3 linked regions of the Homo sapiens genome follow. Changing the gene in region 3 together with the main gene of any one other region gives a genetic interaction. Each region holds a gene or a part of one and is shown on either strand. Other genes may lie near its edges. The genes, in order: KRAS, CHEK1 and MTOR.

What was found.
Region 1: changes in MTOR (region 3) and KRAS together harm fitness more than expected from each alone (negative genetic interaction), as found in Homo sapiens cells (3 studies listed by BioGRID, with this or other methods).
Region 2: changes in MTOR (region 3) and CHEK1 are lethal when combined (synthetic lethality), as found in Homo sapiens cells (2 studies listed by BioGRID, with this or other methods).

The regions. Positions count from the first base shown.
Region 1 is NC_000012.12:25,223,195-25,226,945, reverse strand, and holds part of KRAS (GTPase KRas), read left to right. Parts: intron 1-1,172; coding exon 1,173-1,332; intron 1,333-3,751. UniProt on the Homo sapiens protein: Ras proteins bind GDP/GTP and possess intrinsic GTPase activity. Plays an important role in the regulation of cell proliferation.
Region 2 is NC_000011.10:125,622,890-125,626,640, reverse strand, and holds the start of CHEK1 (serine/threonine-protein kinase Chk1), read right to left. Parts: upstream 1,479-3,751; 5' UTR 881-1,478; coding exon of another isoform or gene 629-880; exon of another isoform or gene 69-628; coding exon of another isoform or gene 66-68; exon of another isoform or gene 1-65. UniProt on the Homo sapiens protein: Serine/threonine-protein kinase which is required for checkpoint-mediated cell cycle arrest and activation of DNA repair in response to the presence of DNA damage or unreplicated DNA.
Region 3 is NC_000001.11:11,234,853-11,238,603, reverse strand, and holds part of MTOR (serine/threonine-protein kinase mTOR), read left to right. Parts: coding exon 1-202; intron 203-555; coding exon 556-761; intron 762-844; exon of another isoform or gene 845-868; intron 869-3,751. UniProt on the Homo sapiens protein: Serine/threonine protein kinase which is a central regulator of cellular metabolism, growth and survival in response to hormones, growth factors, nutrients, energy and stress signals.

The sequences.
Region 1 (3,751 bases), on a different chromosome or scaffold from region 3:
TTTTTAGATACATCATTAAAAAAGAAAACCATAAAAAAGAATATGAAAAGATGATTTGAGATGGTGTCACTTTAACAGTCTTAAAAGCAATCGTGTGTATAGCATAGAATTGCTTGGATTGGATAAACAGTGGCATTATATATTTTAAAAAATAAAAGTTTTGAAAGATTGAAGAATTTGGGCATTACAGTTCTCTTAAATCTGACAAAGCTGCATAAAACTATTAAAATAATCATTATTATACTATTTTATATTCTATTTCTTTGAGGGTTTAGTTTTCCAAAAACTACATATTAAGCAAATGAATCACTCAGTGGCTATGTCATATAATAACGAGTTAGCCTAGTTATAAGAAGTTTAACATTTTATTTAAGAACATTGTTACAGCATGTTTACTGTATAGTCTAGTAATAGAGGAAAAGACATTTGGGTGGGTGGTAGTGGTAGTATTTTTATAGAGGAGTTACCAAATTTCAGCTCTATTATCCAAGTTTACCCAGCTAATGGTGTTCGGAACCGGGAATTTGAGCCAATTCTGACTCTGTTGTCTGCTCTGCTCCTTCTTTTGTGCTGTGTCTTTGAAAGTCACCTAAAATTGTGAGGGAATGTAATTTCACCCCAAATTTAGAGTTTATGCACTTGTTATATTGAAAATGATTAACATGTAGAAGGGCTTTTAATGGAATAAGTGGTGTAGTAACTTCAGTGTTGCCTACCTAGAAATCAAAATCTTTCTAGTTGTCCACTTTGTTTTTTGAAAAAGTAATATGAAAATTATGTTAATGCTTTAATTCAGGTTTTTGTAAAATATTTTTTATCTTTACACATTTAACATACGTTTCTAAAATTATAGTCTGTTATATAGCACTTTGGGTCTAGAATTTTTCAGTAGTTTCTGTTTTACTATTATGATCTACCTGCATATTAACCTATTAGGTTATAGTTTTACTATACTTCTAGGTATTTGATCTTTTGAGAGAGATACAAGGTTTCTGTTTAAAAAGGTAAAGAAACAAAATAACTAGTAGAAGAAGGAAGGAAAATTTGGTGTAGTGGAAACTAGGAATTACATTGTTTTCTTTCAGCCAAATTTTATGACAAAAGTTGTGGACAGGTTTTGAAAGATATTTGTGTTACTAATGACTGTGCTATAACTTTTTTTTCTTTCCCAGAGAACAAATTAAAAGAGTTAAGGACTCTGAAGATGTACCTATGGTCCTAGTAGGAAATAAATGTGATTTGCCTTCTAGAACAGTAGACACAAAACAGGCTCAGGACTTAGCAAGAAGTTATGGAATTCCTTTTATTGAAACATCAGCAAAGACAAGACAGGTAAGTAACACTGAAATAAATACAGATCTGTTTTCTGCAAAATCATAACTGTTATGTCATTTAATATATCAGTTTTTCTCTCAATTATGCTATACTAGGAAATAAAACAATATTTAGTAAATGTTTTTGTCTCTTGAGAGGGCATTGCTTCTTAATCCAGTGTCCATGGTACTGCTTTTGGCTTTGGTTTCTTTCTACATTGAAAATTTCTCTTCAATTCTGAGCACATGTTAACATTTAGAATTCAAGAGGTGGGGATTTTTTTTTCCCATGGTTACATATATATATATATATATATATATATATATATATATATATATATATATAAAGAACAGGGCAACAAATTTTTGCGTTTTCTATTTCGGTAGTACTTTTAAACCATTATGTCATGTTTCTAGGTTAAACGTTGTTGTATTTGAAGAATTTTACTTTGGCAGAATTTTTTTGAGGATGTGTTTATTTCTGGAGAAAGGTCTCATTAAAGAAAGACAATACCCAGAAAGCCAACAGAAATTCTGTTACTCATTTAATGCATTTTTCTGACAAAAATTATTGCCAGAGAGAACCTGAATTTTGTTTCAAAAATCATCTTTGTTTTAAAAATGACTTTTTCTTCAGGTAAAATAAAATAATTTCAGTTGCTATTATTTAACCTGTTTGTATGAAGAGTTTAACATATAGGAAATGAATACATAAAGATAGGAAGGAATTAATTGTTATATGTAGTCATATGTCTCTTAATGACAGGGATACTTTCTAAGAAATACATTGTTAGGTGATTTTGTCATTGTGCAAACATCATAGAATATACTTACACAAACCTTGGTAGTATAACCTACTATACACCTGGGATATGTAGTATAGTCTCTTGCCCCAGGGATACAAACCTGTACAGTATGTAACTGTACTAATGACTATAAGGCAATTGTTAACACAATGGTAAGTTTTGTGTGTCTAAACCTACACTTGGGCTACCCTAAGTTTATATATTTTTTTAAATTTCTGTTCAATAATAAATTAACCTTACTTTACTGTAACTTTTTAAACTTTTTAATTTTTCCTAACATTTTGACTTTTGTAATACAGCTTAAAACACACATTATACAGCTATACAAATTTTTCTTTCCTTATATCTTTATTCTGTAAGCTTTTTTCCATATTTAAAATTTTTTGTTTGTTTTTACTTATTAAACTTTTTTGTTAAAAACTAAGACATGCATGCACATTAACCTAGGCCTACACAGGGTCAGGACCATCAATATCATTGTCTTCCACTTCCACATCTTGTCCCACTGGAAGATCTTCAGGGGCAGTAACACACGTGGAGCTGTCATCTCCTATAATAACATTGCCTTCTTTTGGAATACCTCCTGAAGGACCTATCCAAGGCTGTTTATAGTTAACTTTTTTTTTTTTTTTTTTTTTTTTTTAGTAAATAGGAGGAGTACACTATAAAATAACAATATAGGTGCTATACCATTATACAACTGACAGTGCAGTAGGTTTGTTTACACCAGCATCACCACAAACACGTGAGCAATGTGTCGTACTACAGTGTTAGGATGGCTATAACATCACTAAGCAATAGGAACTTTTAAACTCCATTATAATCTTATGGGACCACTATCACATATGCAATCTCCTGTGGACCAAAATGTCATTATGTGGTACATGACTGTACTAAGAAATTGATCCATCTATATTCCATCAATTTGTTTAGGGCTTTTTCTGGTTACATTTACCTGTGAGCCCAGAAAACCAGTTTTGTAGAAATTAACTTCTGTAATGCTAGGAGTTAAAAAAAATTGCTGAACAACTTTTACATTGTTAAACATTTAAAAACAAGCGTTCTAGAAGTTTATCAAATTTCATAAAGGTGCAAAAATGTAAATGTAAATCATTATCCAGCTAATATATATGTTGTATTTCCCTAGTAGGAGAGCATATGTACCTCTTCCTAGTTATACAAATTTGATATATAGTAAAGAAACAGTAAATTCTACTTCAAGTCATTTTGGGAGGATTAAAAACTGAATTTCTCTAGTTTGACCATTGTACAGATTTATCTGGCAATTTTACTAAAACCTGATTTATAGGTTAAACTTGGTGTATATCATATATCACTTTACTTTAGAGGAATTAAGATTTCACATAAATCCATTTCCAGGTTCCAAAGACCAGGAAGAGGCTTGGTTTTTGTTTTTCTTTTTACTGTCTTTACAGTCTCCTTGACTTTTCTTAGGAGAGAAGGTACTGAGAAAACATGATTCTAATATTTATTATTTTTTCTTCCAACATTTTCTTATGAAACATTTTCAAATACAAAATTGAGTTTTATTTAAAACATTTGCAAATATACTACCTAGATTCTACCATTGTTGTTTTATATTTGCTTTACTTACAACTTTTAAAAGATGCT
Region 2 (3,751 bases), on a different chromosome or scaffold from region 3:
TCCCCTTCTATCTCATCCACATTTATCCAAGTCTTTCAACCACGAACAACTATTCTAAACCTGACCATTTTGTCGTGTAAATCACAATCGCCACTCCCAAGCACACCGAAGGTTGAAATTCTGCCCTCCTCAGGCCCCAGAGGAAATTAATTGTTGTTATGAAGAGGTGGGAGACAAATGCTTTCCGGCGAACGACTGGGGAAGGAGGAGGGAGAGGTGGGGGTCTGGGGAAGAGAGGAAGAGGATATAGGGAGCGGTATGGGGCAGAAAACGCCTGCGGCAGCGCCTCCTCCCAATTGCTCAATTCCAATTCCCATCCCCATCCACAGCCCCACCCGTCCCAAAGGCCGGGGCGGGGCCAAACTGCCCCCAGAGGCGAAAGGAAGGGCTGGGACTCTTCCTTGGGGTTCTTAGCTAGCAGCGGGTTAGTCCCTCCTGCCCCCGCCCCCACAACGGGAACCTCCTGGTACCATTCCTCCACCCTCCGAAACCGCCCCTCCGCAGGAGTCTCTCCAATCCCCTGCGCTAGTCAATGCTAACTTTCTCCCACCATGCCCTCCCTCACTAATCTAGACCCCGAACTCCTTCTTTAGAAACCTTCCCTACTCTACCGGCCGCCCTTCCTCACCGGACTGTCCTTTGCCCACCACTGCAGGAATCCAAATGCAGCGCTTTTCCCGCCAAAACTTGAGGGCGTCACGCTGCCGCAAACTCGCGCACCCGCGCCGTAAAGCAAGACAGCGCGCGTTCCCGTGTCCTGCCCCTCTGAATGTCGGCGGCTCCAAAAGGGTGACGTGGAGATGTTGCCGCTCCCGCCCAGGGCTGCTTTGCAGTCGGGGAGAGATCCTGGCTGAAGAGATTTAAGGACGGCGGACCGCATCGGCGCGAATTGAGCTCTGGGCCCAAATATGAAGTGGCATCCGGTGTGAGGCTCGACTGGGCGGTGCTCGAGCGCTGCTGGGGGAAGCCCAGGCCTCCAAGCCTCAGGGGCGCGCGACCGACCGCGCTGCGCTTCCAGGCGGGGCTGCGGGCTTCGCTCCTGGCCGCTCTGGGCCTGAAAGGCTGCACCGCCACCTGCGTGAGGCCACCGGACAGGACTGTGAGGATCACAGTCGGTGAAGCAGAGTGCTTTGTAAACCTCAGAGTGCGGTACTCGTGGTGCTGGAGCCGAGAAACCAGCAGCAGCTGCTGAGAGCCGACTGTGAAGAAATGGGAGGAACTCCGTGTTGGGAGCGAGAGGCTTCGAAAGAACTGGCCACGCAGTCAAGTGTGTGTGGCGGGGCAAGTTTCCCGGAGAAAGCGAGCAGTTTATGTTGGAGCTTGAAGTCAGGATAACCAGTTTTGCCTTTTTTCTGTGAACCAGCTCCAAAACAATGCTTTACTTCAGCCCGGTCTTTTTGCAGGAAGACCATCTGCTTAGCTTAGTTCTACAAACTTTTTCATTTTTAATGTGCAAAGAACAGGCGGGGAGAGCCAAAATAAATCTTACAACGCAAATTTAAAAGCTGCGTACGTCATTTAAGTGGAAAAGTAAATTCTGAGGAAAGAGACTCAAGAACAAAATAGGAAAAATGGAAATAAGTATTCTCTGACAGTAAACTAGACTGGAACTCAGGGATAGGCAGGATCATCTCCATTACATTCTCCAGCACTGGCCGGGCGCAGTGGCTCCTGCCTGTAATTCCAGCACTTTGGGAAGGCGAGGCAGGAGAATGGCTTGAGGCCAGGAGTTCAGGACCAGCCTGGGGAACATAGGGAGACCCCATCTCTACAAATAAAAAAATTTAGGAATTAGTCGGGCTTGGTGGTGTGTCCCTGTAGCCCTAGCTACTTGGGAGGCCTAAGCAGAACAATCGTTTGAGTCCAGGAGTTAGAGGTTAGTGAGCACTACTGCACTCCAGCCTGGGCAACAGCATGATTCCGTAGGAAAAAAACATATTTTTTTATATGTATATATTTTATATATATACATATATATTTTCTTAGTCCTTAAGACTGGGCCACATACAAACACTAAGCATAACTGGCTATTATGATAATAGTAAAGTGAAACAAGTATAAAATGTTACTCAAGGCCGGGGCCTGGTGGCTCACACGTGTAATCCCAACACTTTGGGAAGCTGAGGCGTATGGATCACCTGAGGTCAGCAGTTCAAGACCAGCCTGGCCAACATGGTGAAACCCCCGTCTCTACTAAAAATACAAAAATTAGCCGGGCACGATGGCGAGTGCCTGTAATCCCAGCTACCCAGGAGGCAGAGGCTGCAGTGAGCAGAGATTGTGCCACTGCACTCCAGCCTGGGCAACAGAGCAAGACTCCGTCTCAAAAACAAACAACCAACAACAAAAACACACATTTCTTTTAAAGAAGCAAAGTCAGGAACAAAAATCAAGGAAAAAACTCTTAAAATGCTTATGTGTATAGTTTTGAATCATGACATCACAGATTAGGCTTCATGTAATCTTTTTACAGTTTGTTGTTTTTGGAGACAGGGTGTGTTGCTCTGTCACCCAGGCTGGAGTGCAATTGGGCAGTCTTAGCTCACTGCAGCCTGGAACTCCTGAGCTCAAGTGATCCTCCTACCTCAGCATCCCAAGTCACTGGGATTACAGAAGCGAGCCACAGGGCCTGGTATAAAAATAAAAGCAAGTTTTTATATCATTTATCCCATTTTCTCTTGTTTCCTCACTGTGTGCTGAAAACAAAGAATACGAAGAGGAAGACCTGCAAATTTCCTGTGTGTCTGATGGAGTCTTTTTAGCCTGAAAAAAAAAAAAAAAAAGATATACAGACTCCAGCAGAATACCAGTTAAAGACAGAATACATAGAAATAGCCTCTATTCTCTTCTGAAAGCCCACTAAAATATTTTAATAGTAAAGGATACCAATATTTAAAAGAACCCATAAGAACAGAGTATGAGACACATTTTGGAAAGCAGAAAGCCTTTAGATGAAAGGTAATGAAGATGAATCCCAAAGCTAGCAATGGAAAGCAGAATTAACATCACAGAACTCTGAAAAAGCTCAAGTTGAACTGGTGACACCAGGTAACTGAAGGTGGAGGTAAAAATGGGGCTAAAAGGGGTAGGTTTAAAGGCTACATAAAAAACAAATAGATCCCCGTATCCCTTCCCTTTCTATGTAACCAAGGAACTGTCCCTCCCCAAAGCTGGTACGAGATTTAAGAGGGTAAATGCACAGTATGTGAACTGGAGACCATTAGGCACAGTTAAAAGCTTGGGCACCTTACTGAAAACGGAGGGATTAAGTTTAAGTTTTATCCACTGAAGGTTGAGCCTGTTACAACTTCTTTCCCTACTCTACTCCCAGAAAGCTGACTGCCTGGCTTACATCCTTGAGTAAGAGAATATGCAAGCCTTCTCAAGGGAATCTTACCTATGCAAAAGATAAAAATCTAAAAATCAGTATCATGGATTTCCCAATGTAACAGCCCAGCCAGATCACAGTAGATTGAAACCCACATTATTAATCCCCATCTACACCCCCTACAAACAGACCTTTCAATCAGCTTTTTTGGGTCCCACTCTTTTTTTTTTTTTTTTTTTTTTTTGAGACAGTCTTGCTCTGTCTCCCAGGTTGGAGTGCAGTGGCATGATGTCTGCTCACTGCAACCTCCACCTCCTGGGCAATTCTCATGCCTCAGCCTCCCCAGTAGCTGAGATTACAGGGTGTGTACCCCACACCCAGCTAATTTTTGTATTTTTAGTAGAGACAGAGTTTTCCCACGTT
Region 3 (3,751 bases):
CAATTTGTTCGCCACTGTGCGGATCATTTCCTGAACAGTGAGCACAAGGAGATCCGCATGGAGGCTGCCCGCACCTGCTCCCGCCTGCTCACACCCTCCATCCACCTCATCAGTGGCCATGCTCATGTGGTTAGCCAGACCGCAGTGCAAGTGGTGGCAGATGTGCTTAGCAAACTGCTCGTAGTTGGGATAACAGATCCTGGTAAGGCTTGCCAGACAGAAGGAATCTAGGGGAGTTAAGGAGCTTAGGACAATTGGGAGTAGCCAGTTTCATTACATGGCCTCTCTAGAGTTCTTCGGCTCAAAAAGCTGATATTCAGCTATTTCTCTGCCAAGGCGTGTTAGGCATGGCTACTGTAGCCTTTGGTGTAAGATAATCTACCTTTAATTCTTTTGTCTTTTACTCTTGTGAGTAGAGAAAAGAATGACAGAGGTTAGATGAGAAAAAGCATCTGGAATCTTCCCACTACGCTGATGGCAGTGGAGGTAGAAGCTGGGAAGGGCTGGAGTGATGGGATCATGAGGAAATGTTCAAAGGCTCCATTGCTCTTGCAGACCCTGACATTCGCTACTGTGTCTTGGCGTCCCTGGACGAGCGCTTTGATGCACACCTGGCCCAGGCGGAGAACTTGCAGGCCTTGTTTGTGGCTCTGAATGACCAGGTGTTTGAGATCCGGGAGCTGGCCATCTGCACTGTGGGCCGACTCAGTAGCATGAACCCTGCCTTTGTCATGCCTTTCCTGCGCAAGATGCTCATCCAGGTAACCGAGGTGATGGCCAGACCCACAGGCAGGGAAGACAGGACTCTCGCTGTGAGAACTGCTTGAGGAAGCGGAGTTGAGGACAAGGATGGGGGAGAAAGATTGAGGTACCTGGTAAAAGCCGCATTTGTCTGCAAAGGTCCAAATGTTTCCCTGGCTTTATAATGGCAGTTCCAGTGCTCATCACCTCATGAGCCCTTTGTCAATATGACTCTAAGGTGGTTCAGAGTCCTCTCATGCAGCTCTTTCTTTTTCCTGGCAAGTCACCAGTGATCCCATTTCTTGGCCCTCTTTGCTTGCTGGGTTGATCTGCTGCAGATGGTGTCAGACTTCCCAGCGCCTCCCTATCCTTCAGCTCTCCTGCTTTTCTTGCTGGTGCCAGGTCAAGCACGGAGGCCGTTGTTCTTCACAAAAATAACCAGTGTGAGACCGTTTCCACTATTTGTTCTAATAGTCATTGCTCCAGTCTGTGATCCTGGCTTTCGTTCTTAAATAATATGAGAATGCCAAGCTCAGCTGCTTGGTCTGTAGCGTAAGGTAGAATTGCTCTGGAGACATGGCTCCTCAGTTTTTGTCTTCACCTACTGAGTAAGATCTGTGGCCTCCTGGTGAGCAATACATGGAGTCCTGCCAATACACCAGTCCTGCCTGGTGAAGTTATTTCCACCTGCCTCTTGTGGGTCTCTATGTTGCTCACCCAGTCATTTCCTGTCCCCATTGCTCACTGTTTGCTTCCTGATCCTCCTTCATGGTTTGTTTTGAAGTAAACACTTTTTATAACATATAAGGAACTTAAACATAGAAAATCATTAATATATGTAACTCACTCTAGAGAAATGTTTGTTCACAATTTGTTATAAAGTGGCTGTAAATTATATCATCAGTCAACAAATTAGGAAGTTGTACTTATGTTGGCACTTCTATTTTTAGCGTAATGATTTATTTAACTGCCGGCCTGCGTTAGAAGTGCCTGCCATTTTAAGTCTTAAAAACATTCCTCAGTTATAGGAAGGAATAGAAATCATTGTTGAAGGCCGGGCGTGGTGGCTCATGCCTGTAATCCCAGCACTTTGGGAGGCCGAGGTGGCCAGATCACCTGGGGTCAGGAGTTCAAGACCAGCCTGGCCAACATGGTGAAACCCCATCTCTACTAAAAATAAAAAAAAAATAGCCAGGCATGTTGGCAGGCGTCTGTAATACCAGCTACTCTGGAGGCTGGTGCAGGGAGAATTGCTTGAACCCAGGAGGTGAAGGTTGCAGTGAGCCGAGAGCGCGCCACTGCACTCCAGCCTGGCGACAGAGCGAGACTCTGTCTCAAAAAAAAAAAAAAAAACGTGAAATCACTGTTGAGCCTGCCAGCTCAAATCATGCTAAATTAATTTGGCGTAGAAATATCTCCTAAACGGCTGAGTGCAGTGTCTCATGTCTGTTATCCCAGCACATTGGGAGGCCAAGGCAGGCGGATCACAGGAGCCCAAGAGTTTGACAAGACCAGCCTGGGGAACATGACAAACCACGTCTCTACAAAATATACGAAAGTTAGCTGGGTGTAGTGGTGCATACCTGTAGTCCTAGCTACTCAGGAGGCTGAGGTGGGAGGATCACTTGAGCCTGGTAAGTTGTGGATGCAGTGAGCCGTGATTGTGCCACTGCACTCCAGCCTGGGTGACAGAGTGAGACCCTATCTCAAAAAAAAAAAAAAAAAGGAAAAAATAAGAAATACCTCCTAATGAGAATATCAATATGTTCATTCTGTCAGCAGACTTTTTGACCACATGCTATGTTCCAGGTACTGCTGGGCACTGGGAATATAGCAGTCAACAAGCCAGGCGTGGCTGCAATCTTCTTTCTTTTTTTTTTTTGAGACACAGTCTCGCTCTGTCGCCAGGCTGGAGTGCAGTAGTGTGATCTTGGCTCACTGCAACCTCCACCTCCCAGGTTCAAGCGATTCTCCTGCCTTGGCCTCCTGAGTAGCTGGGACTACAGGCGCCCGCCACCACGCCCAGCTAATTTTTGTATTTTTAGTAGAGATGGAGTTTCTCCATGTTGGCCAGGCTGGTCTCAATCTCTTGACCTCATGGTCTGCCCGCTTCGGCCTCCCAAAGTGCTGGGATTACAGGTGTGAGCCACCTCGCCCGGCTGGCTCTAATCTTCTTAAAGCTGATATTAAGCTATCAGGCCATTTCATTTTTTCAATATTGCAGAGTGTGAAGCTCCTTTGAATGAATTTATGTACTGAATTTAGCCCTTGAAATGTTAAAATTACTCTTTTTTGTTTTTAAACTTTGATATAGATTTTTCCAAATTGAGGTGTACATTTTCATGCCTTGGTAAAGGCTTTGGTGTTTTGTTTTGTTTTGAGACAGAATCTCACTCTGTCACCAAGGTTAGAGTGCAATGGTGGGATCTCGTCTCACTGCAACCTCTGCCTCTTGGGCTCGAGCAGTCCACCTGCCTCAGCCTCCTAAAGTGCTGGGATTACAGGCATGAGCCACCGTGCCTGGCCGACTTTGGCCTTTCTTGCGGTCTTGGTCATCAGGGTGGGCATTGGTTATTGTTATTAGGATGCAGTGAGGCTCTCGGGCTCTAAGTGAACCTGGGGTTCTTTGGATTGGCCCCGCACTGCTGCAGATAGTTGGGCTCTGCTCCGTGAGGCACATTTCCTTGCAGTCAGCCATGTCTTCTTGGTGCTGCAGGTCTATTCTCAGTATCCCCTTCATTTCTTTTCCCTGTGGTCTGCTATGACTGGGGAAAACAGGCTGCCAGGGGAATCCAGAAAAATCGGGTTATTAAGTCAGTAACCTAAGACAAAATGTAATGTTAAATTGTAGACTCCTCTGGGTAGCTGAGTTAACCTGAGCTCTGTGACATCTGCTTTTGTCACTGCTCATCGATTTCCTTCTGGCAGCTTTATCCAGAAATCTGTCTATATTATGCTGTCTATGTCACCATGAGCAAGATATGCTGATTTGCTGGTGTCCTAAGGATGT